7 separate regions of the Homo sapiens genome follow, and regions 2, 3, 4, 5, 6 and 7 are each reported to be linked to region 1. The links are microRNA targets in miRTarBase. Many come from high-throughput screens and were not tested one by one. Region 1 holds a microRNA gene; each other region holds the end of a gene's coding sequence.

Evidence for each region. Region 1 holds the annotated microRNA hsa-miR-1-3p (UGGAAUGUAAAGAAGUAUGUAU, at 1,474-1,495, opposite strand). A microRNA usually pairs through its seed, bases 2 to 8, with sites in the 3' UTR of a target mRNA and lowers its output. Matches are read on the target gene's strand: a 7mer-m8 pairs with bases 2 to 8, a 7mer-A1 pairs with bases 2 to 7 and ends in A, and an 8mer does both.
Region 2: the mRNA of TWF2 is a reported target of hsa-miR-1-3p. The part of its 3' UTR that is shown has no 7-base or 8-base seed match.
Region 3: miRTarBase lists DYNC1LI1 as a target of hsa-miR-1-3p. The part of its 3' UTR that is shown has no 7-base or 8-base seed match.
Region 4: miRTarBase lists AGRN as a target of hsa-miR-1-3p. The part of its 3' UTR that is shown has no 7-base or 8-base seed match.
Region 5: the mRNA of ACADVL is a reported target of hsa-miR-1-3p. The part of its 3' UTR that is shown has no 7-base or 8-base seed match.
Region 6: the mRNA of EDN1 is a reported target of hsa-miR-1-3p. Seed matches in the 3' UTR shown: 8mer at 764-771.
Region 7: miRTarBase lists NXPH2 as a target of hsa-miR-1-3p. The part of its 3' UTR that is shown has no 7-base or 8-base seed match.

Annotation. Positions count from the first base shown.
Region 1 is chr18:21,827,542-21,831,608 of GRCh38, forward strand. It overlaps MIR1-2 (microRNA 1-2), which reads right to left and starts at 1,547; the gene lies at 1,463-1,547. All of the region lies in intron 12 of MIB1 (MIB E3 ubiquitin protein ligase 1), which reads left to right. MIR133A1HG (MIR133A1 host gene) reads right to left here and starts at 3,865. Exons shown (of 3, transcript NR_110369.1): 1 at 3,781-3,865; 2 at 3,079-3,253; 3 at 1-1,911.
Region 2 is chr3:52,225,432-52,229,498 of GRCh38, reverse strand. It overlaps TWF2 (twinfilin actin binding protein 2), which reads left to right. Exons shown (of 9, transcript NM_007284.4): 9 at 298-887. The coding sequence ends at 465. TLR9 (toll like receptor 9) reads left to right here and starts at 3,854. Exons shown (of 2, transcript NM_017442.4): 1 at 3,854-3,972. The coding sequence starts at 3,970. RefSeq lists enhancers at 2,721-3,220, 3,375-3,464, 3,221-3,722, 3,975-4,067.
Region 3 is chr3:32,523,337-32,527,399 of GRCh38, reverse strand. It overlaps DYNC1LI1 (dynein cytoplasmic 1 light intermediate chain 1), which reads left to right. Exons shown (of 13, transcript NM_016141.4): 13 at 492-1,426. The coding sequence ends at 601. Among named protein-coding and RNA genes, the nearest start is that of MIR548AY, 19 kb to the right of the region's middle.
Region 4 is chr1:1,054,662-1,058,728 of GRCh38, forward strand. It overlaps AGRN (agrin), which reads left to right. Exons shown (of 36, transcript NM_198576.4): 36 at 163-1,455. The coding sequence ends at 320. Among named protein-coding and RNA genes, the nearest start is that of RNF223, 18 kb to the right of the region's middle. RefSeq lists an enhancer at 4,064-4,067.
Region 5 is chr17:7,224,418-7,228,473 of GRCh38, reverse strand. It overlaps ACADVL (acyl-CoA dehydrogenase very long chain), which reads right to left. Exons shown (of 20, transcript NM_000018.4): 17 at 3,922-3,994; 18 at 3,760-3,832; 19 at 3,590-3,665; 20 at 3,208-3,517. The coding sequence ends at 3,377. It overlaps DVL2 (dishevelled segment polarity protein 2), which reads left to right. Exons shown (of 15, transcript NM_004422.3): 10 at 430-497; 11 at 691-819; 12 at 939-1,070; 13 at 1,205-1,384; 14 at 1,835-2,053; 15 at 2,161-3,132. The coding sequence ends at 2,609. Among named protein-coding and RNA genes, the nearest start is that of MIR324, 3.1 kb to the right of the region's middle. RefSeq lists an enhancer at 3,019-3,518.
Region 6 is chr6:12,295,447-12,299,513 of GRCh38, forward strand. It overlaps EDN1 (endothelin 1), which reads left to right. Exons shown (of 5, transcript NM_001955.5): 5 at 516-1,748. The coding sequence ends at 621. Among named protein-coding and RNA genes, the nearest start is that of EDN1, 7.1 kb to the left of the region's middle.
Region 7 is chr2:138,667,480-138,671,546 of GRCh38, forward strand. NXPH2 (neurexophilin 2) reads right to left here. Exons shown (of 2, transcript NM_007226.3): 2 at 1,678-4,067. The coding sequence ends at 3,443. Among named protein-coding and RNA genes, the nearest start is that of LINC02631, 68 kb to the left of the region's middle. RefSeq lists an enhancer at 3,156-3,879.

The DNA.
Region 1 (4,067 bases):
ATTTTGAGTTCTTGGTATTTAGGACCTATACAGGTAAACTTACCAAATAGAACATGAATCATTGCCATTCTGTTTTGTGGATGATCAGAAGGGCTATGCTTATGTGAGTTAAGCTTTGAACTAATTTCTTTGAAAGTGTAGAATTTTAAAATTATGTGCCTTTTATAATTTCCAGTAAACATGCAGTAACACATATGATGCCATGTGTAAGTCATTCTCATTCTTTATAATCTGATAAAATGAAAATCATCTTTGTATTAACTAGTCTTATTAAACAGAAAATGAACTATAGTTAAACTTAGTCATTTCCATTCAATTTCTGATACAAAAAATTTAAAATATTATGCTTTTATACATGTGTAAATATTTCAGTTGAAATAATACTTTTAGTAAGAAATGGTTAGAATATGTGAATATTACTCTTATTTTCTAACTTTGTCATTAGTAGCTTAAAACAGGTACTGCTTATAAATTTTGCTAAGAGCATTATTTGGAATTTTTTATAAATAATATACAAACTGTGTGAAATAAAAGTATTTTGATATTTCTAAACAATGGATTGATCAAGTTTAGAGAAATTGAATTGTAATTGCATAGTACAATAAAAACAGTTCTTCGATCTGTATAAATTGGTTCTTGACTATAGTGCTTTCATTTTACATGCCCTCTTTGGAGAAAGCAAATTCGAAGATAATACAGATAAATTAATTTCTTTTAAATATTTGGTAGTCTGTTACCAATATACCCTGCTGACTTACAGCTGTGGACCAGAATTTTGTCATTTTTCATGCTTAAATCTTACATTTTAATTAATTTTAAGTTTTAACTTCACATTTAAAGTAGAGATTTGGGTTAAGACCCTGATAAACTTGAGAAGGAAGGACAAGGGCCACTATGTTTGTAGCTGTCAAAAAAGAAAGCCTTTTTAAAACAACAAAACTTTTGGTCAGAAATTCCTCTAATATTAATTATACATTTATCAAAATGAGAAGAAATAGCTTATTATGTGAATGAAGCCAGCTCTTAGTATCTTATTTTTCTGTACAAATCAGTGAGCCCTACTAATGAGATATACTTAAGATTAAATTGTGGAGACAGAAAATAGGTCATGTGTATTCCTCATTCTTTTGTGCTAGTAATACTATTTTCCCTTTTGCAGTCAAATTTTAATAATGAGAGTGCCTAATTTAAAAATGTAAGATGTCTGTTTTAAACTTAGATGATTTAAAAGGAGTTTCATGATAATTGAAATCTACTTCACTGGATCTTCTTTTCCTTCATGAAATAAAAACCTTAGGGATAGTTTCTATCTATCAGTAGTAGATAACCTTTTTTTTTTGGTGTTAGTATTGCCAAAGGTCATCTGTTCATGACTAGGTTAATTTACCATATGACGGTCATTCACGTAGAAAGAAGCAAGAGCTTCTTTTAGCTCAGTTTAATTCTCCCTTGGTGGTTTATTGCCTACCAAAAATACATACTTCTTTACATTCCATAGCATTGTATGTTCATATGGGTACATAAAGAAGTATGTACTCTGAGTAGGTATTACTAAGTTGTTAGCTGTAAAAACATGAAATATTTTATTTTCTTATTTGTTAGTGAAACATTCAGCTTACTAATGTAGAGCAATGGTAAATCATTTGCAGAGACTAATTTATCGAAGACTAAATTTTGTAACAAGTTTACCTGAAGCATGGCATTAATGGTTCCATATTCTTGGTGGACATAGACATTCCTAAGCATTTGACCAGTTATCTGTTGAACTTTGTCCTGGTTTGATTCTTTTTGCAAGAGATTCAAAGAATCAGTGTAGTGTTACAGAGTGTATTTCGGAAACTTAAGATCAGCCTAGTGTTTCTTCAGTCTTCAGAGTGAATTTCTTCTTTTTTTGTAGTCTGCTTCTAGATCCTACAGGTAGATAGTAATTAATTAAATTCAATTTTTTTTTTACAAACTAGATATCTTACTCAAAACCTAACAAATTAACCAATAAGTATTTCTGATATTGACTCTAGAAGTTGAAACAACAAGGAGAAAAACCAGGATGAGTGTGGGTGAATTGAACTTTTTTAAAGATTATGAATTTTTGTTAGTGTTTTATAAGGTCACAGATAAGAACTCGTGATCATTTGAAAATTTGTCATTCTTTTTTCTTTATTAGTTCCTTACCTGAAGTTTGCACTTTGATGCTTCTCTTTGGGTTAAATACAAATATGAGTTGAATACAAATTCAAATAGATGTAGAAATATCTAATTTTGGTGAGTTTAAGTTGTTTTGATTCTTTAATCTTTTTAGTATAAAGGATAACTGTCAGAATCGTCAACTTTTAGAAAGTATCACTTCAAAGAACTGAAAGGTTTTAGTCTGTGAGCACCTGGGTTTTATTTACCTTGATAGTTTAGAATGAAAAGAAATTATAGTTGGTAAGTAGCCTTCAGTTATTGTGGTATTAGAAGGTTAATTTAAAACCTCAAGAAATTTTCAGATTTGTCAAAGGAGGAAAAAAAAGGGCAGGGATAGTAGAATTTCTGCAGCTTGTGATAAAAAGCTAGTGCAGCTTATAGAGAGCAAATCAGAATGTAGCAGTAGATAGCCCAGCACTACAGCAGTTTCAGCAATGCAGCATTAGAATTACACCATGCACGTTCTGATTTATTTTTGTGGCCAATTATTAGTAAGCATTAAAAAGTATTTTATGATCTGCCAAGTTTCTTGGTTGACTAAACCTTGAAATAGAAGCTAATAGTTTTAGAAAATAAGTATACTTTGGAAGCAGGATGTGACTTACTAGAGATGCAAAATCATCACTTAATCTGAAACAATAATGACTAAATCTTTAATAATGTAAATGACAATAATGTATTTGTACATTTTTAAGATAAAAAGTTACTGCCATAGTATCTGAACAATATTCCTTTTTACACTACATTAGCTCTTAACTTGAATTGTGAAATTAGGCTATGGTTAGATAGAATTTAATTTAACAATGAGAACATATATTGAGTCAATAATAGGTAAGCATGCAGAAAGTCATAAGCATCCTTAAAAGTACAGGCCTTATGGTGCTCTGTTACCTGTAAGCTTAGTGTCATGCAGCATTTGCAGCAGGAAGAAAGGTAGTAACCTAGAGAATCACATCAACAGCAGCCATCTCATCTTGATTGTTCGTTCACTCTATTTGCTGATTCAGCATTTCTTTTCATGAGCCCGGTGAAGGAAGGGGATGTATCAGTGAACACAGAACCTCACCTTTTAAGATAAATTTGAAAAACAAACGAGCAAACAAAAAACAAGCTTACTTTTCCCTCTCCTCCCCTCTTCCCTTTACCAAAAACAAAAACAAAAACAAAAACCACCAACAAAAACAACTCTAAAATTGAATCAGTGTTGGCCATTTGATTTGGAATGTCATATAACAGTCTTGCACAGTTATATAGGGAAAGTTAAGCAATCAAAAAAGGTTGCTACAAAGGCCAAGAAAATGAACCTAGCTTGTCAGATGAAATGCTTCAGAAGAGGGGAAAAAGTTGCAGAAGTTAATTTTATAGTCTAAAAAAGACAAAAAAAAAAAAAAACAAAAACAGAACCCAAAACACACCTTACTCCCCCCAAATAACTGTAAACATTCACCCTGTTTTTCTTTGCCCTCCAGAATACATTGGGTTCTTCTGACTTCTTAGGAAATAGTCTGCATCTTTCTTGCTTTTAGATTTTTTTTTTTTTTTTTTTTGGTTTTTAGTTTCCAGGATTAAATAGTAGAGCTGTAGTGAAGCTACCTTGTCACATCCAGAGGTCAAGTCTGCAAGCGAGGTCAGGACTTCCACATGGTCACTACGAGGCTAACTTATATTCTTCCTCAGTGACCACTGGCTAAACTGTTACAGCTTTATAGGCAGCTAAGCATTTGAAACATGCACTCCCAGGCAAACAGGCTCTCTTGTGCCTCTCTCTTCCCTGACCATATTTAGTCAACCATAGCAAAAAATAGCCTCTCAGCTGTCGATTGTCGATCCAAAAGCTGAGGAAGCCTCAATCTTGCTTTCTGCCTATTGATTGTTCATCC
Region 2 (4,067 bases), not on the chromosome of region 1:
CAGCTGATCGGTGGCTCAGAAAAGTCCAAGTCCTGGCTACCATGTCATGTCCTTTCCCTGGGCCTGGAGACAGGGAGGAGGTGACCCCAGCGAGCAGAGTCCAAGGCATGCAGGGCAGCAGGCCCTAAGCTCTTGCTTTCCTGGGAGTGGCATTCCAGGTGGGGAATCAAGGGGAGACCTCAGGAGACCCCAGGGCTAGGATGTGAGAGTAAGGGGTGCCCCAGGAGTGGGGGCTACCAGGGGTGGTGTGTGTCAGAGCCCCTCCCATTGGGGTGACCACTGCCTTGCCCCATGCAGATTGAGATTGGCGATGGGGCAGAGCTGACGGCAGAGTTCCTCTACGACGAGGTGCACCCCAAGCAACACGCCTTCAAGCAGGCCTTCGCCAAGCCCAAGGGCCCAGGGGGCAAGCGGGGCCATAAGCGCCTCATCCGCGGCCCGGGTGAAAATGGGGATGACAGCTAGGAGGCTGGAGCAGGGCCGGCCACGTGTGGACTGTGGGGCTGCCCACCTTCCGCTCCCTGCCACCATCCTCCTTCCTGGGCTCCAGGAAAGTGTTTCTGGGAGGTCAGGAGGGCTGGCAGCTGAACGCACTTGCAGCGTCCGAGGGCCACCGGGCTGGCATTTTGTGACCCTTCCCTGTTGCTGTCCCTGCATCTCGTCTGTGTGCCCAGGGTGTCCGGGGACCCTGCCTGGCTGGCTTAAGGGGGCTGGGTCAGGGGCCTGGCATGAACCTGGCCTCCCGGGGAGCTGAGACTAGGGTCCCAGCACAGCCCAGAAACCTTTGGCCACAAGAAGTGGGGTCAGTCAGGGCTGGGGCAGGGGTCACTGCAGTTTGGGATGGTTGAATGCTGTATTTTCTAAAGAATAAAATATTTTTAAATCAAGACTTGTGCTTGGCCCTGAGAGACCGCCTCTGGCCCTGGGAATTGGGCAGTCTTGTGCATATAACTGTCCTTTCCCAACAGGGGAGAGGGGAGTGCCGGCCTGCGAGGTGGAGCCCCAGCACTCCACCTCCAGGTGTGTGGGAGAGGCTGTGCCTGTGAGTGGGCGTGCAGCCTCACGCGGGTCTCCCAGTCAACAGGAGCCCTGCTGGAGAGGCAGGCGCGCCTCCACTGTGACATGAGGGATCTGCATATGGTCATTTGCTGAGGCTGCCGTAACAAATTACCACCAACTTAGTGGCTTCGAAGAAACTCAAATGTATTCTCTTACAGTTCTGGAGGCTGGAAGACTGAGATGGGTCTCACAGGGCCAAAGTTGAGGTGTTGGCAGGGCTGGCTGTGTCTGGGCCCCTCAGAAGAACCCATCTCCTGGCCTTTTCTGGCTGTATTCCTTGGCTTGGGGCCCCTTCCTCCACCTTCAAAGCCAGAGGTGACATCTCTGATTCTGCTTTCCTCAGCCTCTGGGCTCCCATGGCCTTTTGTAGTCGAATCTCCCTCTGTCTCCATTTCATAAGGGACATTGTAATTGCATTCACCCTCCCTGCCCCCACCACCTACCCCTGTCAAGATGGGTAACTTAATCACATCTGCGAAGTCGTTTTTGCCACACTGTGGGGTGTTGGGGTCACGTGTTTGCAGGTTTGGGGAATTAGGACAAGGATCTCTGAGAGGGACTTTATGCAGCCTCCCACATGGGATAAGGGCTCCTCCTCGAAGGCTTCCCAGCCTCCCTGGGCTGAGGCCAGGACAAGTTTTTCTGTGGACATCGATATCGGTGTCTCCAAGCTGAGTGTGTCCATGTGCGTGGGTCTGTACCTGTGTGTGCAGACCCCTCTGTCAGCTTACTGGCCTCTCTGGTTTTCTGCCTCCAAAGAAGGCAGGGCCACTGCTGGGTATGGGGGTCTGGGTCCCTGGTCCAAGGGACTCTGGGAAAGTCTCAGGCTTGGGGCTCCACAGGAGCCCGAGCTTTGGTGTATCCCTCTGAGAGGTGGATGGAGGGAATGAATGCAGGTGCCTTCCACCCCAGGCAGGCAGGAGTGGAAGCATGGGGTTGATGCCTGCAGCCCAGCTACTGAGTGGGCACTGCTCTCCTTCCTGGCTCAGGGCAACATTCTATCCCTGGCGCCTTTCTGAGCCCCTGCTCAAGCCCCTAGAATTGTAGAGAGGAGAGCCAGACTAGCTAAGACCCAGAGGAGGCTTGTCCTTGCCCAGCCGAAACATTGGCTCCCAGGTGGGCAGGAAGACGATGCCATCGCCCCCTGCTGCTGAGCCAGCCAGATGCCTGGCACTATGGAGCCTGCCTGCCATGATACCACCCAGAGTGGGCCTGGGGGGAGCAGGCTGGCAGATGTGCAGCCTTGCCTCCTCCCAGCAGCAACAATTCATTAATTCATTCATTCAGCCTTCACTCAGAAATACCCTCTCTGTGCCTGCCCAGAGCTGACTGCTGGGTGTACATAATTCAGCAGATATCAAGCACTTACTATGTGCTGGGCACTGTACTGGATCCTGGGGATGCAGATAAAAGATCACTGCCCTTAAGAAGCTGACATTCCAGCAGGGGAATAAGACGATATACAATAAACCATGAAAGATCAATGATCCGGTGTGCTAGCAGTTAAAAAATGTTAGGACAAAGAGAAACATAGACCAGGCAAAGGAGCTCAGGAGTGCCAGATCTGGGGTGGGAGGTTTGTAAGAAGGCTGGATGGCCCTGTTGAGAGGGTGACATGGGAGCAGAGACATAATGGAGGCAAAGGAGGGGTCATATGAGACTTGGGGGAGTTTTCAGGCAGAGGGAACAGCACATCCCAAGGCCCTGAGGCAGGAGAATGCCCAGGGGCTACACAGTCAACTGCAAGCAGGCCAGTGGGCCTGGAGAGCACTCAGGGGAACAGCGGGTGGCAGGTCCCATAGGGCCTTGTTGGCCATCTGTGGACTGTGGCTTTGACTCCAGAGTCAGCCAGGGAGGGGTCTGAGCAGAGGAGGGACCTAGTGTGACTTAGGTTTGAACAGTTCCCTCTAGGGGCTGAATGTGACCAGCCCCTGGAGGGCAGAGAGCAGGGCAGGACAGCCAGAAGGGAGGTGGCACCTGCATGGGTCTAGGAGAGAGGATGGGGGCTGGTGGACATGGGGACGGTGGGCTGTGGGCACACCCTTCAGCATGGTGGACCCAGCAGAACTTGCTGAGGGGCCCGGGGTCACCCAAGGCTTTGGGCCCGAGGAATCTGAGTCTCCTCACCTAGATCAGAAGGAGAGTGGGAAGAACTGATGGGGAGGACTGGCTGGCGGCCCTGCTGGGCCAGCACACACCTGGCCTCTAGGAGCCCCATCTGGAGTGACGTGGTGTGTGCTCTGATGGGGCCCCAGGGGCTCTGGGAATGTGGAGGAGGAGGTCTTGTTTCCGGAAGATGTTGCAAGGCTGTGGTGAAGGCAGGTGCAGCCTAGCCTCCTGCTCAAGCTACACCCTGGCCCTCCACGCATGAGGCCCTGCAGAACTCTGGAGATGGTGCCTACAAGGGCAGAAAAGGACAAGTCGGCAGCCGCTGTCCTGAGGGCACCAGCTGTGGTGCAGGAGCCAAGACCTGAGGGTGGAAGTGTCCTCTTAGAATGGGGAGTGCCCAGCAAGGTGTACCCGCTACTGGTGCTATCCAGAATTCCCATCTCTCCCTGCTCTCTGCCTGAGCTCTGGGCCTTAGCTCCTCCCTGGGCTTGGTAGAGGACAGGTGTGAGGCCCTCATGGGATGTAGGCTGTCTGAGAGGGGAGTGGAAAGAGGAAGGGGTGAAGGAGCTGTCTGCCATTTGACTATGCAAATGGCCTTTGACTCATGGGACCCTGTCCTCCTCACTGGGGGCAGGGTGGAGTGGAGGGGGAGCTACTAGGCTGGTATAAAAATCTTACTTCCTCTATTCTCTGAGCCGCTGCTGCCCCTGTGGGAAGGGACCTCGAGTGTGAAGCATCCTTCCCTGTAGCTGCTGTCCAGTCTGCCCGCCAGACCCTCTGGAGAAGCCCCTGCCCCCCAGCATGGTAGGACAACAGCTCTCAGTCCCCTGGGGAAGGGGATATCCTGGGAAGGGGTGGGGAAAGAAGTGGGCTTGGCAGCTGCAAGCAACAGTGACGGG
Region 3 (4,063 bases), not on the chromosome of region 1:
AGATTAAATGATAGGTGCCAGTTATACCTCCATTTGGTAACAGATCCACAATTTAAAATGAGGGAATTTGTTTTTTCTTGAAATTTATATTATTTTTATTTTTTAGACAGAGTCTCACTCTGTTGTCTAGGTTGGAGTGCAGTGGTGTGATCTCAGCTCACTGCAACCTCCACCTGCCGGGTTCAAGCAGTTCTCCTGCCTCAGCCTCCCAAGTAGCTGGGATTACAGCAGGGTTTCACCATGTTGGCCGGGCTGGTCTCGAACTCCTGACTTGAAGTGATCCTCCCACCTTGGCCTCCCAAAGTGCTGAGATTACAGGCGTGAGCCACCACACCCAGCTTGAAATTTTTAAATTAAGTGTTGTTTGTATAACTTAGTGTGCTAAATAAAGTTAATGAAAGTGTTAGGACTTTTTAAATGAAGAGATATTGGTGAAAACGATACTTTCACTTATATCTAAATCTTGTTTTTTTTCTTTTTCTTCAATGTAGGCCAGAAGCCTGTCTTAGATGTTCATGCAGAACTAGACAGAATTACACGAAAACCAGTTACAGTTTCTCCCACAACACCTACATCTCCTACGGAAGGAGAAGCTTCTTGAAGATACCAAATAAAGCCATTTATTCTGTTTTCTGGGATAATGTAAACATGCCTCTGCCTTTTCCTTCAAAAGTGGAATTAGAAAGCTGGAGTGCTTCTTCAGATGGACTAAATTTATGTCGTGTGTGTGTGTGTGTGTGTGTGTGGTTACCCATTTTTTAGAAGGAGCCGTACAGAAGAAAAATTATTCTACATTATGTAGGATTGCTGTTTGCATTGCCATTTTGCATAAGAAAGTAATTTTTGATTTTGAAAATCTCAAAACTTTTAGATCTGAAATACAGCCATGTGATCGATCATATTCTAAAGGCTATTTAAAACATGTAAAAGGATTTGGGGAACGGCAGAAAACATGCAGTTTGGGCATTTGACTGACTTGGAAGTCTAAGCTTATTTTAGTTATAACTATTAAAATCATTTTTAAAAATTTGTTAGTTTTGCTGACAGAGAAAAATCGTCAGTTGTCAGATTTTGCACACCACAATAAATGTACCACCACACACGGAATATGCTAAGAAAACTATCAGATAGCGTTTGATACACTAGTCATTGTCTCAATCACTGATCCTGTAAGTTGTCATCAAAATATGATTTAGAAATATTGGCCAAGGTGTTGCTTTAACTGAGGAGAAAAGAAAGCACACTGCCTAAATGTGTAAAAGAAAAATGCAGAGGTTATTAAAATGTAAAGAAGTAACAATCTTTGGATTTGTCTATACATATATATATATATATATGGCTTTGCCTTAATATACCCCCTTTTTTGTTTGTGACTTTCAACTGTAATCAGTTAATAAAGTATTTATTCTCTGCATTCAGGTTCAAATAACTTGTTGCATTCTCTTATGTTTAAATTTACATGTGTCAGCTAATAAATGAGATTCATTAGTACAGTCATCCCTTGGTATCCATGAGGGATTGGTTCCAGGACCTGCCTCAGGTACCAAAATCTACAGATGCCCAAGTCCCAGATATAAAATGGTGTAGTATTTGCATATAACATTCACATCCTCCTGTTTACTTTAAATCATCTCTAGATGATAATACCTAATTCACTGTAAATGCTATGTATATACTTATACTGTATTGTTCAGAGGAAAATAACAAAAAAAGTGCCTGTTTAGATGCAACTTTTTTTTCAAATATTTTCCTTCTGTGATTGGTTCAATCCATGGATATGGAACCCACGGATACAGAGGGCTGACTAATTTAAAATTTTCGACCTAATTAATAATATAATTATTAAGCTTTCTGACCTAAGAGATAAACGAATACACACGTGCATGTATATGAGGATAAAATGGTGTTCATGGGCATACAAAAATTTATGAAAACATTTTATCTGATAAAATATTTGAGATAAACAATGCCAGTGATAAAATCTTTAGTCCAGAAAGGGTTCTGCAAAAAGGGTGGTGTAGATTCTCTCTAAATCAGTACTCGATGAAGTAAGTGGAACTAATGGAAAAAGGAAAACTGCTGACAGTATTTGGTGTACTTGGATATATCTGCTACCTTGTTTGCATGCATAAACCAACTCATTCTGTGTGTGTGAGACATTGAATGTGTACTAGAAAATCCTTGAAATTAATTGAGTTGTTACTTCAGTTTACTGTAATTGTTCACTCTGGGATTTAGTTTAATCTTAAGACCTTGCATAGATCATGTTTAAATCTGAAAGCTTCACGCCTGTAATCCCAGCACTTTGGGAGACCGAGGCGGGTAAATCACGAGGTCAGTTCAAGACCAGCCTGGCCAACATGGTGAAACCCCGTCTCTACTAAAAATACAAAAAATTAGCTGGGCATAGTGGTGGGCGCCTGTAATCCCAGCTGCTTGGGAGGCTGAGGCAGGAGAATCGCTTGAAGCTGGGAGGCCGAGGTTGCAGTGAGCCGAGATCCCACCACTGCACTTCAGCCCCAGTGACAGTGAGACTCCATCTCAAAAAAAAAAACAAAACCTGAAACCTATTTTTGTACAATTTTTTGCAAGGAAATTTGTTTTAAAACTTTGTTTTTAAGCAAACTTTATTGAAGTATACAATACAGAAAAAATGTACAAGTGTATGGTTTGAAGTATCACAAAGTGACCACATATAACCAGCACCAAAATAAGCAACAGAACATTACCCAGCACTTACAGAAGCTTCGAGTGTGCCCCCTCAATCAGTATCCCCACCCACCAAGTAACCACTGCGTAACTTACAAATATGCAGATAAGTTTGGCTTATTTTTAAGCTTTATAAAAATTGAATCTTACAGAGTTAATATTATTTTAGTGCCAGGTATCTTTCAATATCAGGTTTGTGGTTCATCCATTTTGTTGCATTTATCAATAGTTACTGCAGTATATTATTCCATTGTGCAAATATAGTATCTATTATGCTATAGATGTGTATGTATTAATTTCCTGTTACTGCAGGAAATTACCACAGATTTGGTTGCTTAAAACCTTACAAATTTATTATTTTACCATGCTGGAGGTTAAAATTCCAAAATAAGCCTCACCTGGTTAAAATGAAGTGTCAGCAGAGCTGGCTTTTTTTATTATTATTATTATTTTGAGGCTCTAGAAGAGTATCTGTTGTCTTTTTTTTTTTTTTTTTTTTTTTTTTTGAGACGGAGTCTTGCCCTGTTGCCCAGTCTCGAGTGCAGTGGTGCGATCTCGGCTTACTGCAAGCTCCGCCTCCCAGGCTCACGCCATTCTCCTGCCTCAGCCTCCCGAGTAGCTGGGTCTACAGGCGCCCGCCAGCACGCCCGGCTAATTTTTTGTATTTTTAGTAGATACAGGGTTTCACCATGTTAGCCAGGATGGTCTTGATCTCCTGACCTCATGATCCGCCCTCCTCCGCCTCCTAAAGTGCTGGGATTACAGGCGTGAGCCACCGCGCCCGGCCAAGTATCTGTTGTCTTTCTGGCATCTAGAAGCTGCCTGCATTCTTTGGCTCTTGGCCCCTTCTCCAAAGCCAGCAGCCTAGCATCTTCAACTCTGCATCCATCACATCACTTTCATTCTGACCTCCCTGCCTCCCTGTTGTAAGGACTGAAGTGATTAAATTGGCCCCCCCTGAATAATTCCGTATACTCTCCCTCCACACTTTAAATATTTCACTGCACTCTCTTGCTTGCATTGTTTCTGAAAAGGAATCAGATGAATTTCTTATGTTTGCTCCTCTAGAGGATATTTTTTCCTCTGGCTTCTTTCAAGACTTTTTCTTTAATTTTCTGTAATTTGAATATGATATGCCTAGGTGTAGGGTTTTTTTTTTTCATTTATTTTTCATTTTATTTTATTATTTTATTAATTTTATTTTATTTTTTGAGACAAGTTCTCACTCTGTTGCTCAGGCTGGAGTGCAGTGACTCAATCAGGGCTCACTACAACCTCTGCCTCCCAGGCTCAAGCAATCCTCCCAGCTCAGCCTCCCTAGTAGCTGGGGCTACAGGCATGCGCCACCACACCC
Region 4 (4,067 bases), not on the chromosome of region 1:
GGGCTGGGCTCTCTTCTCCCGCTGTAGCCCCTGCAGTTCCCAGTGCTGTGGGGCCGGGAGGCGGGTGCCCAGGTGTGGGCCCCCTGCTGGTCACCTGCTCGTTGGGGTGCCCATCAGCATCACTGAGTCACAGCCGGGTGACTCCCACTGTCTGTGCTGCAGGGGGCCTGCCGGAGCTGCCCGTGGGCCCAGCACTGCCCAAGGCCTACGGCACAGGCTTTGTGGGCTGCTTGCGGGACGTGGTGGTGGGCCGGCACCCGCTGCACCTGCTGGAGGACGCCGTCACCAAGCCAGAGCTGCGGCCCTGCCCCACCCCATGAGCTGGCACCAGAGCCCCGCGCCCGCTGTAATTATTTTCTATTTTTGTAAACTTGTTGCTTTTTGATATGATTTTCTTGCCTGAGTGTTGGCCGGAGGGACTGCTGGCCCGGCCTCCCTTCCGTCCAGGCAGCCGTGCTGCAGACAGACCTAGTGCCGAGGGATGGACAGGCGAGGTGGCAGCGTGGAGGGCTCGGCGTGGATGGCAGCCTCAGGACACACACCCCTGCCTCAAGGTGCTGAGCCCCCGCCTTGCACTGCGCCTGCCCCACGGTGTCCCCGCCGGGAAGCAGCCCCGGCTCCTGAATCACCCTCGCTCCGTCAGGCGGGACTCGTGTCCCAGAGAGGAAGGGGCTGCTGAGGTCTGATGGGGCCCTTCCTCCGGGTGACCCCACAGGGCCTTTCCAAGCCCCCATTTGAGCTGCTCCTTCCTGTGTGTGCTCTGGGCCCTGCCTCGGCCTCCTGCGCCAATACTGTGACTTCCAAACAATGTTACTGCTGGGCACAGCTCTGCGTTGCTCCCGTGCTGCCTGCGCCAGCCCCAGGCTGCTGAGGAGCAGAGGCCAGACCAGGGCCGATCTGGGTGTCCTGACCCTCAGCTGGCCCTGCCCAGCCACCCTGGACGTGACCGTATCCCTCTGCCACACCCCAGGCCCTGCGAGGGGCTATCGAGAGGAGCTCACTGTGGGATGGGGTTGACCTCTGCCGCCTGCCTGGGTATCTGGGCCTGGCCATGGCTGTGTTCTTCATGTGTTGATTTTATTTGACCCCTGGAGTGGTGGGTCTCATCTTTCCCATCTCGCCTGAGAGCGGCTGAGGGCTGCCTCACTGCAAATCCTCCCCACAGCGTCAGTGAAAGTCGTCCTTGTCTCAGAATGACCAGGGGCCAGCCAGTGTCTGACCAAGGTCAAGGGGCAGGTGCAGAGGTGGCAGGGATGGCTCCGAAGCCAGAAATGCCTTAAACTGCAACGTCCCGTCCCTTCCCCACCCCCATCCCATCCCCACCCCCAGCCCCAGCCCAGTCCTCCTAGGAGCAGGACCCGATGAAGCGGGCGGCGGTGGGGCTGGGTGCCGTGTTACTAACTCTAGTATGTTTCTGTGTCAATCGCTGTGAAATAAAGTCTGAAAACTTTAAAAGCATTGCTTTTGTCCATCCTCACCAGCGCGCTGGCCCGTTGGCTTCTTGCTCCGCTTTGTGGTGGGAGCACGGACTTGGAGCTCCCTTGGGTGGCCCTGGATGGAGCCAGGCCCTGCACAGGGATCCTTGTGGCTGATGAGGCCCTGAGTGGGGAGCACACACTGCTGAGCACTGTGGGAGGCGGGGCCGTGGAGGCAGGAGGCTCTCTGGCGTGCACGTGTGGGTGCGTGTACGTGTGGGGGTGTGTGTGTGTGGGTGCGGGTACGTGTGGGTGCATGTGCCTGCTCTCTGGCGTGCACGTGTGGGTGCGGGTACGTGTGGGTGCGGGTACGTGTGGGTGCATGTGCGTGTGGGTGCGTGTGCCTGCTCTCTGGCGTGCACGTGTGGGTACGTGTGGGTGTGGGTGCGTGTGCCTGCTCTCCGGCGTGCATGTATGGGTGCATGTACGTGTGTGTGGGTGCGTGTGCCTGCTCTCCGGCGTGTATGTGTGGGTGCGTGTGCGTGTGGGTGCGTGTGCTTGCTCTCCGGCGTGCATGTGTGGGTGCATGTACGTGTGTGGGTGCGTGTGCCTGCTCTCCGGCGTGTATGTGTGGGTGTGTGTGCCTGCTCTCTGGCGTGCACGTGTGTGTGTGTGTGTGTGTGCCTGCACACATAATTGGCCCACATCTGTGTCAGAGCACAGGGTTGGGAGGAGGCTGCACCCAGGACTGGAAGGGTCTGGGGGGAGCCAGGGTGCGTGGGGCTGTTGGGCAGCCTTTTCACTGGCCCAGGTGTGCAGAACCAACCCTTGGCACTGCTGGAAGCCCCTAACTAGAAACCCCTGGGGTAGCTGGGCTCCTGGACTCCCTCTAACCTGCTTCCTAAATTAGTGTGTGGGTGACAGCACTGCAGAAGCTGAGCCTCAGGGAAGGGCGCGGTGGCTCACACCTGTCATCCCAGCACTTTGGGAGGCTGAGGCTGGAGGATCGCTTGAGGCCAAGAGTGGGAGATCAGCTTGGGCAACATAGTGAGACCCCATCTCTGCAAAAAAATTTCTTTAATTAGCCAGGCGTGGTGGTACACACCTGTAGCTCCAGCTACTCCGGAGGCTGAGGCAGGAGGATCACTTGAATCCAGGAGGTTGAGGCAGCAGCAAGCTGTGATTGCACCACTGCACTCCAGCCTGGGTGACAGAGCGAGAACCTGTCTAAAAAACAGAGCTGGCACCCAGCACCGGCAGATGTGAGCCCTGGGGAGAAGCAGGGGAAGAAGGGGTAGGGTGTGTGGCCAGCTGGGTGGCCCTTCGCAAACTGCTGTCTCTTATGAAAAATAACTAAGTGTAGTTTTCTATTTTGTATTAATGATTTTAAAAAAAAAGCCAGGTGCGCTGGCTCACACCTGTAATCCTAGCACTTTGGGAGGCCGAGGCGGGTGGATCACCTGAGGTCAGGAGTTCAAGACGAGCCTGGCCAACATGGTGAAACCCTGTCTCTCCTAAAATACAAAAACTGGCTGGGCATGATGGTGGGTGCCTGTAGTCCCAGCTACTCCGGAGGCTGAGACGGGAGAATTGCTTGAACCCAGGAGACGGTGGTTGCAGTGAGCCGAGATCACGCCATTGCACTCCAGCCTCAGTGGCTGAAGGAGACTCCGTCTCAAAAAAAAAAAGAAAAAAGAAAACCACAAAAACATCGAAATAAAATAACACCAATGGCTGGGCACATTGGCTCATGCCTATAATCCCAGCACTTTGGGAGGCTGAGGCAGGCGGATCACCTGAGGTCAGGAGTTCAACACCAGACTGGCCAACATGGTGAAACCCTGTATCTACTAAAAACACAAACATCTGGGCGTGGTGGCAGGTATCTGTAATCCCAGTTACTCGGGAGGCTGAGGCACGAGAATCGCTTGAACCCGGGAGGCGGAGGTTGCAGTGAGCCGCGATTGCACCACTGCACTCCAGCGTGGGCGACAGAGCGCGACTCCGTTTCAAAAAAAAAATGAAAAGATAATACCCACAAGCTCCACACCCAGGAGGTCCCATGCGTCTGAGTGTTTGCTTTCTGGGCTTTTCATCACCTGGTCCTCTGGGGATATGCTGACCGACCCTGTGTGCCTGGCAGGTGTCAGGCACTGGGGGTCGGGGAGGAGAGAGTCCAGGAGCGGTGGCCACACACAGGTCGCTGACGGTGGGGGGCCAGGGTGGGGGCAGACTAACTTTGGTTTTCAGGAAAGGTCCAGAGAAAACACGCCCAAACCCAGACCCGAAGCATGAGCAGGGGGAGGGCAGGTGAGGAGGCCAGAGGCGGGGCATGTGGTGTGGGTCCATTGGACGGTGTGCAGGGCCCTGTGGCTTGACAAAGGGATCTTTCAGCAGGAAGCGGAGGCGTAGGAGCGGCCAGAGGCCAGCGTGCAGGACAGAGGCCACAGGTCAGAGCAGCAGAGGCTGGACAGAGATGGGCAGGGCAGGTCCAGTGGGGCTGCGTGGGCCTGGGGAAGAGAGCTGGGGGTGCTGCCTGAGGAGCTGTGGGAGGCTCCTGGAGGGCTCCAAGCAGGAGGCCACCAGATTTCATGAAGACGCCCCTGGCTAGGACAGGGTGCTAGGCTGCAGGGGGAGCAGAGGGAGGGATTT
Region 5 (4,056 bases), not on the chromosome of region 1:
ATACCCTAGAACTTCCTCCTCAGATGTCCCTTCCTGCTCCCAAATGCCTCACTGCCCCAGGGGTAGTCACTCTCCTGACTTCTTTGGCCATCACCATAACAAAGAAAAGCTTTGCCTCACTGGATAGTTACCACCCTTGCACGTATCCTTGAACACTGCAGTTTCGTTTTACCTGTTTTTGGACTTTCTGTGAATGGAACTGTACAGCGTGTACTCTCTTGTCTCACTTGGCAGTATGTTTTTAAGAGTTTTCCATGTTGATGAGTCATCCACATTGTGGTGCCTTCCACCCTCACCTTCTCTAGCCCAGCCGCGATGTGCTTGCTTCTCCCCCTCTTTGTGTCTCTTAATCCATCCTTGCTTCAGACCCCCGCCCTCCTGAGGCCTCCTCTTCCCCTGCGCCCTTGACTGGACTTCTCTTCCCCATAGCCCCATTGTGCTGACTGTGGCCAAGTGCTGGGATCCCTCTCCTCAGGCCTATTTCACTCTCCCCCGAAGTGAGTGACACTCAGGGAGGGGCCTGAAGTTGGGGGTGGGGGCTGCCCAGGAGGCTGGGGCCGGGCCTGTGGTCATGGGGAATGGGTGGGAGGAGGGTCCAGGCAGAGGTGGAACAGGAGGCTGAGTCAGGGAGGGACTGGGCTGGCTTTTGGGGACTGAGAATGGGTCATTTTGGTGCCATCTTTGTCCCAGATGAGCCCATCCAGCCAATTGACCCTGCTGCCTGGGTGTCCCATTCCGCGGCTCTGACTGGCACCTTCCCAGCCTATCCAGGTTCCTCCTCCATGAGCACCATTACATCTGGATCGTCTTTGCCTGATGGTGAGCCGCCAGCCCACCTCATCCCACCCTCCCAGCAGAAGGCTGTCCCGCAGTGGTCTGATCCATTGCCCTTGTGGGAGCGATCCCTGACTCTGGTTACCCGTTGTCTCCTCTGCCAGGCTGTGAAGGCCGGGGTCTCTCCGTCCATACGGACATGGCATCGGTGACCAAGGCCATGGCAGCTCCAGAGTCTGGACTGGAAGTCCGGGACCGCATGTGGCTCAAGATCACCATCCCTAATGCCTTTCTGGGTATGGCTGGGTCCTGGGCAGGTGGCTGGAGAAGGGGAGGAGGTGGTGACCAAAGCCAGGAATGGCACAGGCAGAGGCGAGAGCAGGAGTTGGAAGAAGAACCTGAGGCCTTTTTCCACTGTGGGTGCTCCCAGGCTCGGATGTGGTTGACTGGCTCTACCATCACGTGGAGGGCTTTCCTGAGCGGCGGGAGGCCCGCAAGTATGCCAGCGGGCTGCTCAAAGCAGGCCTGATCCGACACACCGTCAACAAGATCACCTTCTCTGAGCAGTGCTATTACGTCTTCGGAGACCTCAGTGGTGGCTGTGAGAGCTGTAAGTCCCCCTGCCCCAACTCTGGGAGTGTGGCTTTGCCTACCTTGTTCTGCCTCTCCAACCCTAGACCTAGCCCAGAAACCGCAGCCAGGGCCACCATGGATGGTCGAGCAGTGTGTGTCCCGCACTAGGTCCTGCACTGGCCGAGGATGGGGGCTGACGTCCACCCATGTGCTGCTGGACAAGCCATGTGCCAGGTGCAGGACTGTGTCCACCGGGGGAAGGTGCACCTCTTACCTGAGTCCCGCAAAGACGTGGGCTAGTGGCTGTGCCCCTGCCCTCATGGCAGAAGTAGATGGGAGTTTCTTGTCAGAGACCCTTGTGAACCCCTGTTTTGAGCCCCATCGTGGGTGGGTCTGGGAGAACTGTTCCCAGTTCCTCTCCATTCGGTGTCTTGGGGCCCTAGCCTCTTGAAGCAGTGATTTCTTCCTCTCTTCCCTTGCTTTCCAGACCTAGTCAACCTGTCTCTCAATGACAACGATGGCTCCAGTGGGGCTTCAGACCAGGATACCCTGGCTCCTCTGCCTGGGGCCACCCCCTGGCCCCTGCTGCCCACTTTCTCCTACCAATACCCTGCCCCACACCCCTACAGCCCGCAGCCTCCACCCTACCATGAGCTTTCATCTTACACCTATGGTGGGGGCAGTGCCAGCAGCCAGCATAGTGAGGGTAAGTCATCCCCACATACCTGTACGGCCAGGATCTGAGGGTGGATGAGAGGGGAGCCAGGGAGGAGCCTGGGTGAGGACTCAGTTGCCCCTCCCCTCCCTCCACAGGCAGCCGGAGCAGTGGGTCGACACGGAGTGATGGGGGGGCAGGGCGCACGGGGAGGCCCGAGGAGCGGGCCCCCGAGTCCAAGTCCGGCAGTGGCAGTGAGTCTGAGCCCTCCAGCCGAGGGGGCAGCCTTCGGCGGGGTGGGGAAGCAAGTGGGACTAGCGATGGGGGCCCTCCTCCATCCAGAGGCTCAACTGGGGGTGCCCCTAATCTCCGAGCCCACCCAGGGCTCCATCCCTATGGACCGCCCCCTGGCATGGCCCTCCCCTACAACCCCATGATGGTGGTCATGATGCCCCCACCTCCACCTCCAGTCCCTCCAGCAGTGCAGCCTCCGGGGGCCCCTCCAGTCAGAGACCTGGGCTCTGTGCCCCCAGAACTGACAGCCAGCCGCCAAAGCTTCCACATGGCCATGGGCAATCCCAGCGAGTTCTTTGTGGATGTTATGTAGCCCACTGTGGGGCCAGGCTGGGCCGGGCGCTCCTGGTGTGTGACTGGGTGTCCTGGCCGTCATGTGCTTGCTCTTACAGTGCCTGGGCTCAGCCTACCAGCTGCTGCCATACAGGAGATTGTGGCCACTGTGACTCTCACCAGCAGTGCCTGGTTCCTCCCCCTTCCCTCAGGGGTAGACAAGGGACCTTTGATTATTTTTAGCTTTGTTTTTTTATAAGCCTTTTTGGGGGTTAAAATAGAGTTTCTTACATTTTTGGGACTTTTTTAATAGGCATTTCCTCTTTTATATGAAGAATTCCCATCCATTGGGCCCCTTCTAACCCCAGAATGTGACCTCCTCCTCCAGTTACCCACAGCCCTGCCCTTTGCAGGGTTGGGGGTGGTCAGCGGTACCCCGGGGTTAGGCATCCTAGACAGCAGCCTGAGGAAGCTGGGAGATTTGGGCCATGTAGCTGCCTTTGTTACTCTATTTATTTTAGTCACTTGTATAAAACACCAAATAAAGCAATAGAGGCAAACTCCCCACGCCTCTGGCTCCTTTCTTTGGGAGGGAGGCAGGCAGCAGGGGGAAAGAACCGTCACACAGGAGCAAAGCATGACTGGCTAGAAATTTTTATTATTTGCGAGGCAGTAAGTGCTCTTGAGAGCAGGCACAGTGCTGGGAACACTAGGCCCCTTCGGGACAAACCAGGGCCTTAAGGAAAGGGGCTTCGGCTTTGGCTTGAGGGAAGGCACATAACTGGGACAGGCCCTGGCCGGGAGTATTCAGAAGCCAAGTGGGTTGCTGGTGACCACACCACCCCGCTCCACCAAGGCCTTGGAGATGCTTTTGAAGTTGCGGTAGAGCTCTTGCTGCCAGGGGTCAGACTGCAGGGCGGCCATGCCCTCTCGGATCCGAGCTGCAGCCTGGGGAGAGGGAAGGAGGGGTTGGGCCTGCACCTCCAGCCCTCACCTGAGCTTGGCAGCCCCGAGTCTCACCTCGATACACCAGGTGTCACAGAGCATTTTCTCATGCTGGGCCGTGGGGTGGCCCTCACTCAGGGATCTTGAGGCCCTGGCAGGAAGCAGGAGATGAAAATAAATCTGGGCCGGCTGGGATCCAGGCCCAGGCCCCCTGCGGCTCAGGCATTCCCTGCCTGCCTCCTCACCTCGAGAGAACCACCACCATGGCATAGAGGTCGATGGCCCCGTCTGCCAGCCGCTGCAGCAGAAACTGTTCATCTGTCCGGTAGGTGGGGTGGGGGTGGGGGTGGGGGCATTAGTCTCAAGGAGAGGAAAGGGAGGGGCGGAATGGTGTAGAGCTCACTTACTGACAATCCCCTTCTTGTGTTTTATCAGCTTGGCCTCCACCACAGTGGCAAACTGCTCCAGAGCCCGTACTGCCTTAAGAGATGGGGACAGTGCGGGGCTCAGAGGGGCCATCGGCTGCAGTCCCTGATGCAGGC
Region 6 (4,067 bases), not on the chromosome of region 1:
TCCCTCTGTATTTCTCCTGTAAAACATTAGGCCTGCAAAAAAAAAAAATCTTTTTAAAAATAATTGCCATAAAGTATTTGCTCTGGGCCTACTGTATGCTTCTTTTCTTTTTCTCTCTTTTCAACTAAGTCACCGTCAATTTATTAAGATGGCCATAACTATTCAAAACCTATGCTGAGTTCCTCAAGGCAGGGTCACATAGTGATGAAGGTTGGGATGGGGCTACGGAAGAAACCAGAACAACTCTAGTTTATTTAAAACCTGTATTTACTGCCCACTTCCCCTTAGACTTGACCATATGACCCCTCGCTCCCATTCTAAGCATAGGGGCAGGCTTTATTTTTACAATGGTAATAGATATCACTTGAGGTTTTATCAAAGAGTTGCGGCGGGTGGTGAAAGTTCACAACCAGATTCAGGTTTTGTTTGTGCCAGATTCTAATTTTACATGTTTCTTTTGCCAAAGGGTGATTTTTTTAAAATAACATTTGTTTTCTCTTATCTTGCTTTATTAGGTCGGAGACCATGAGAAACAGCGTCAAATCATCTTTTCATGATCCCAAGCTGAAAGGCAAGCCCTCCAGAGAGCGTTATGTGACCCACAACCGAGCACATTGGTGACAGACCTTCGGGGCCTGTCTGAAGCCATAGCCTCCACGGAGAGCCCTGTGGCCGACTCTGCACTCTCCACCCTGGCTGGGATCAGAGCAGGAGCATCCTCTGCTGGTTCCTGACTGGCAAAGGACCAGCGTCCTCGTTCAAAACATTCCAAGAAAGGTTAAGGAGTTCCCCCAACCATCTTCACTGGCTTCCATCAGTGGTAACTGCTTTGGTCTCTTCTTTCATCTGGGGATGACAATGGACCTCTCAGCAGAAACACACAGTCACATTCGAATTCGGGTGGCATCCTCCGGAGAGAGAGAGAGGAAGGAGATTCCACACAGGGGTGGAGTTTCTGACGAAGGTCCTAAGGGAGTGTTTGTGTCTGACTCAGGCGCCTGGCACATTTCAGGGAGAAACTCCAAAGTCCACACAAAGATTTTCTAAGGAATGCACAAATTGAAAACACACTCAAAAGACAAACATGCAAGTAAAGAAAAAAAAAAGAAAGACTTTTGTTTAAATTTGTAAAATGCAAAACTGAATGAAACTGTTACTACCATAAATCAGGATATGTTTCATGAATATGAGTCTACCTCACCTATATTGCACTCTGGCAGAAGTATTTCCCACATTTAATTATTGCCTCCCCAAACTCTTCCCACCCCTGCTGCCCCTTCCTCCATCCCCCATACTAAATCCTAGCCTCGTAGAAGTCTGGTCTAATGTGTCAGCAGTAGATATAATATTTTCATGGTAATCTACTAGCTCTGATCCATAAGAAAAAAAAGATCATTAAATCAGGAGATTCCCTGTCCTTGATTTTTGGAGACACAATGGTATAGGGTTGTTTATGAAATATATTGAAAAGTAAGTGTTTGTTACGCTTTAAAGCAGTAAAATTATTTTCCTTTATATAACCGGCTAATGAAAGAGGTTGGATTGAATTTTGATGTACTTATTTTTTTATAGATATTTATATTCAAACAATTTATTCCTTATATTTACCATGTTAAATATCTGTTTGGGCAGGCCATATTGGTCTATGTATTTTTAAAATATGTATTTCTAAATGAAATTGAGAACATGCTTTGTTTTGCCTGTCAAGGTAATGACTTTAGAAAATAAATATTTTTTTCCTTACTGTACTGATTTGGAATCATTACTGAAATTTGTAAGGAGTGGGCCAACGTGATTAAGTACCATAAAGGCAAATAAATGGTTAAAGACGGTTTCATAGAAAAGTGACAATTAGAAGGATATTACGGTCTAAGCTAATTATATAAAGAATTTTATCTGTATCTTAAATGTTGATTTTATACTGCATTGAGGTAAAAACACAAAACAAAAAAGCAGCTTTAACACCTCTGTCTTCTCTTGGGTAGCAGCCTCCTGCTTCTCCTTCACCTGAAAAATTCTCCAGGGACTTCATCCATTAACTTGGCTCAGGCTATTAGGCAGGATTCAACAGTTTAAGCTGATGGTGTGGTGAGAGATGCTTTATCCATATTAATGGACTGAAGGAAGTAATGGCAAGACAACCCCCCAAAACATACCTAATTATACAAAGTTATATACCAAAGTTGCTTTTAGAAAATGGCCTGCTCAGAGCAAGTAGAGGTTTCCAATGGCTTTTTATTTTCTCACATTAAGGATGTTGTTTCTTAAGGAACATTGAGTACCATTGCTTCTTCGTGATAGCCTAGGACTGGCCGTGTGCCCATGGAGGTAGAGACACCAGGTACTGATTCTAGGTCCTCTGCCACAAAGCACCACTTCCTCTCCACTTTGCCTTGGCTGGCCTTGTCAGCTCACTGGAGAGCACAGTATTGCAATTGCAGTATTGCAAATGGTCACTACTAACTGAATTCTCTAAGAGCTTGATTAGCCCTCGAGAATCTTCCTTGCCCTTCTCTAATAGTGTCTGAAGGAATTCCTGGCATTTAACAAATATTAGCATGTAGTGATCACTGTCGTCCTAACAGTGACACATCAGAAGGATTTCAAATAACAGTCTTCAGGCATGCGTAATCAATGTCCTGTGCAGAGTCTCCGTCCTCATTGATCCTCATTTTTCTCTTTAAGGCACAGTCCAATGTCTTTGGGGAATTGTTTATAAAGCTTACTTTATCCATAAACTGTTTCTCAGTGCGTGACTCTGAAGAAAATTTTGAAGTTTTGCCCATGTTGACAAGGTGCTTGGTCTGAACTTGGCCAGTATTTAATCTTGAGCAAACGATTCAATTTCCTTCTATCGTGAGTTTTCTCATCTATGAAACAAGGGAGTTGAGGGGAGTTTCTTTCATACCTCTGAGAAAGAGTTTGAGATTACATAAAGAAGTTGAAGTGGCATGAAAAAAAATAAAGATCTGAGCTTAGAAGACATGGATCTAATACATTTAAGAGGAAGTCAGAATCAGAGAAGCCACTGAACAAAACAGTCCAAAGGACAGCATAGTAAGTCAGATTGATGAGTTTTGGTTGGGTTTTTCATCAGTCAAACCCTTGAGCCCCCCTTTCCCATGCTTCCTGCTTCAGTATCCAGTAGGAAAAATGAAAGGGATGATGTAGACACTCTAGGGCATGAGGATTTGCAGTAAATAAGTTGGGAGACTCACAGAAAATTAATATTTTTCAAACATGAAGACGAAACATTCAATTATATTACAGTCCACATCAGCTTGAAGGGTAAACTGATGGGATGGTCTGTCACATTTCTTGCTCTGTTTCCAGTAAAAGCATGGTTTCTGGAAACCCACTTAGGACAGCTTTCTCTCTTTACACTGATAGCCCAGGCAAGCTTTGATCTCAGAACTCCAGAAACCAGAGAACTCTAGGTGGAATGTGGTAACTTTTGCCAGGGCAGAGGGAACACCTACTAATAGGTACTTCATTTGCACCACCAGAGATTGGCATCTTTTTTGATGGATCCACTGGCTTTGATACTGCCTGTACTCCCCCAAAACACAGCTTGGGTATTGGACTAATCTAGAGCTCCCTCAGGAGAACTCTTGCTGACATTAAGAAAGAGCAACATTTTGTCTTTCCAGGTGAAAATCCAAGGCCCAAAAAGGGAGGTGACTCACCTAAGATCACAGAAGGAGCTGTAGCATCTCTGGAGCCTGAACACTTAAGTTAAGCACGACTATTTCAGCCAGAGGGCCCCTGGAGGTCTGCAGAAACAGATGCCCAGGCAAACCTTGCTAGAAGGCTCTGGGTACTAAAGCCAAAATCAGTCTTTCTGAAAGCTTTGCCTCCCAGCCTTGTAGACAGTGCTAGCAGACCCATCCCCTCAAGAGGAAAGAGAAGAAATGCAGGGGAAGAAAAAAGGACTATAAGGAGGCTATCTCATGGCATCGTTAAGTAAATGTCTATAGGATAAAATAGAATATAACCAAGAATTTTTAATTATTATTTTTAGACTTTACTCACCAAAGAATCTATCTGAGTGAAGGGGGAAATCTCTC
Region 7 (4,067 bases), not on the chromosome of region 1:
AATGCTGTTTCTACTGAATGCGTATGGCTGTTGCAACATCGTAAAGTCGAAAAATTGTAAGTTGAACCATTGTATATCAGGGACTGTCTGTATTTATGGGACAGCTGAGTTGAATGTAGAGAAGGGAAGTTTTAAAATGAAGCAGAATGGGTTGTGTTCCCAGGATTCCAGACCTCAGAATATGGGGTAGGAGATTGGGGTGAAGATGAAATGATCTTTGAGTATCATCTACAAGACTTTCCTGAAGGAAAAATAATCTCTAATATGAACTTGTTATCCTGATTTGTCTCTTGCAATTGGCAATATTAAATTGTCATTCATTAAGAGTTCTGATTAATCAACATTGAGTTAACTTTAGTTTCCCCGCAAGTAAGAATGCATGACTCCATCCTCTACATTTTACAGGCCAGTTAATTAATTTAAAATTCTTTATGAGGTGAAATCAAACCTTTAGGCAATCAAGATATTCCCCAAAACATACCAATTCCTATGAAAATATATTCTCAGGTGCCATAATCACCTGAAAACTGCCCAATGTAGTGTTCTACTGCTGTTAATTCTTAGCCAGTCATATTGCTAATGTATTCCAGGACTCCTATCTTTGGATATAAGGATTTATCCTGACTTACTTTTCTGTAGTTGCAGTTTTTAAAAAATTTGTGATCATAGATAAATTATTATCCTAAATATTTTAGGGGGAGGTTATTTTCACCGTTTTCAGGTTCAGTTTTGGCTACTGGGTCCTGTCTTGTTATAAACTCATTGCAATTATTTTTGTTGTCTTGAATACCTGCTTCAATTTACCTTTCTTATGTAACGCAAGAGCTGGGACTAGGAGTCAGGAGAAATGCATTTCAGTTGGGTTTGCCATTTACTAGTGGGCACATCATTACCCTCATGGGGACTTGGGTTTTCCTGTCTGTCAAAAAAGAGGATTAAGAAGGTAGTGTAGGCTGCACTCTCTTTGAAATATTACTCTTCTATATGTTAATATGTCTATACGTTTAAAAGTTCTGTTGCTTTAGTTTTTAAACAGTTTGTGACTGAGTGCAAAATTAGCTTCCATGAATATCCTTTTCCTCAATAGCAGTACTAAAGGGCAAAAAATAGTTTTGTAGAAATGTGTGTATTTGCATGCTTAAGTGGGCTCTGATTTATATTGTGCCAAGTACCATTACTGACAATTAGGTATGCTTTGAAATGAAATTATGACTTAGAAATATATGTGGCATATATTCTACTCCAACTTACAAACGAGCTTATGGGAAACTTTTAAAAAATTCCACAAACGCTGCTAACATCTAAGAACTGTATAAATCAATTTACAGTTTTTTTTTTGTTTTTTTTTTTTGCATAGAAATAATGTTCACATCTCTCAACTTTGGAACATCAGATAGTTTTAAACCTCATTACTTCACGTCAAAACAATAATAATCATAATGGCAGCTCACAAGTAGAGTTCTTTCTTACTAGATGCCATGCTATGTACAAAATGTTTTATGTGAGTTATTCTTTTGCCCTACTTTAAAATCTCCACAGCCAAGATGCCTATTTAACATGTATCTAAGGGAAACCTTCTTGTTCAATTGGTATCACACACACACACATGCACAGAATAAGCCCTTGTGAGGAAAAGAAACAAGGAGAACAGAGTCTTTAAAAAATAACCACCCAGGATTAATGTGACAGATCTAGCAAATTCTTTTTATTTACATAAAATGTGTACACATACTTTCTCTGTACACAGAAAATTCTAAGTATATATATATAGATATATGATTCCCACATATTTTACAATAAATAATATTTTACTCTTGTTTCTAGGTGAAAATAAAAAGATGTTTCAAAATATTAATCACCAACCACAAAATTACAAAAACATGTGGTGAACTCAGAGCAAGAACTTCAAGCCTGTACTACCACACACTAAGCTTAGTACAATTTTTACAAAAGACAAAAATTGAACACTGCAGATATTACCGGTAAAAGGAAAGAAATGAAGATAGAGAACAGAGCTCTTGGTTTTTTGAACAGTGTGGTAAGAGTATTTCTTGTTGTTTAGGACTTCTCTTCCTTTAGTCCTCAATTTAATGTTTTACTTTAATTAATATTTTACAGATAAGAAGGGAGAAAGAAGTTAACATCTATTGTAAAAGGAGTGACCATTCCATGAGCGTCCTGAGTTCTAGAAGCCTTTTTCTTGGCCAACCAGACCCCTGTTTCTGTTCTAATTTAATGATCATTCAGTTCTACCATATAGGACTGCTATTCACCCCCACAGGGAAGATGAGAAGGGCACTGACTGTGAAGTGACATTAATTTGAAAGTCATTTCAAAAGTCTGGTAAGCCAGGTATCTTGGTTGTCAGCACTTAATAATTAGAAATGTTTAAATATAACTCTCTATTTCCACATAGAGTTTGATCTCTTATTCAAATATTAACTAAATGCAAGGGGAACTTAATCTGGGAGGCTAGAAATAATGAATCCATAATCCTGAAATTTCCTCCCTCTACTTCCCACTTTTGTTTTCTATTCTAGTCTAGGAAACAAGCACTTTCACTCAACTTCAGAGCTGTTCTACACATGTGTAAAGAATCACACTATCGAATGAATTGAATAAAGCTCTAAGCTATAGGATGCATACAAATTTTGTCATTTTTTGATTAATTCCACAGCATTTGAATTTATCAGAAGAGTCTAAAAACATCATGATTTTTGTTATCGTTCAACAAACTTATTCTCAGATTTGCTTTCCCATTACATCAGTATTCAAACTCAGGGGGAATCATAAGAATGGTGACCAACACAGGGCTAAGTGCTCAAATCACATTCCACGCAACTGTAGCTCAGATGATAAGGAACTTGGTTCCACTGTGGCACTGTAACTTCACACATGAATTTTGAAACAAATTTTACCTTTTTTTCTCTCATATCAATAACAGCACAGATGGATGGGGGAAAAGATAGAAATATAAAAAAAAGGGTCCAATGTCAAAAACACAATTCATCTATCAAATACAATCTTTTCCTTTACCGCATCTGCTGTTTCTGCGGTAACCTTCCAAAACATATTTCAAAGGCAGGCTCATTTCAAGAGCAATGTTTGTCACATGCATAATTTTGTTCCTTCTTGTCACATATTGCTATCATTGATGTTTCTTTCAGAGAAACAATAAGATTTCTAGAACTTAGTCATCTTGCATGAAAGTGATGGTTTCATAAACAGTTTAACTTTTTAGATAAAGGTACCTACGATAGAAAGAAACAAATTTCACACTTAAAGATGTCTCTTTTTCTTTTTTTAAATTTGAAAACCTGATAGGGAACTATTGTTCACTGCCAGAAACAAAAGGGATCCTTTATCATAAAGAGCTGGGCTTGTTTCTTTGTCATTCTAATCAAATACATATGTATCCCTCATTTCCACCACAGCAGGAAGATCAGCCAGAAGATAAGTATGGGGTCTCACTATGGTAATTGTAGTCAGGGCACACCTTTTGCACGAGTTTATAATCAACACTGTAAAAGGCAATGTAAATGCAAATGACCTTGAAGGGCTTGGAGCACAACCAAGACACATGGCTCTGAGTCTGCTCCTGGTAGCAGATCTTGGATGGGTCAAAGTTGCACAGGGCGGTCTTTTTCGCCCGATCTGTTTTTTCATACTCAATGCGACAATTGAAAGATTTGGATTCCTTGGTCTCCAAGGTAGACTGGGGGGAAACTTCAAATTCCACCACCTTGGAGGGTGGTACCAAGCTCACTGAAACATTGCCCAGGCCTGTTGAATTATGTCGGAAATACACACTGAAGGTTCCATTTCCATGGTCAACAATTTTCCCTGTGATGAGGAGATTGAGTTTGACAGTTTTAATGTTGGAATGAAAGTCACCCCATCCAAACATTTTCTTAAATTTTCCTGTTTTTACTATTGGCCTCCGTTTAGTTCTTGCCAATGGCTCCTGAATCTCCGTGATGTTGGCCAGCCAATCCCAAAAGTTTTCCATGCTGTCTGCGTACGCCATGGGGCCGGGCTTGGGCACCGGAGACTGTTTAACAAACAGG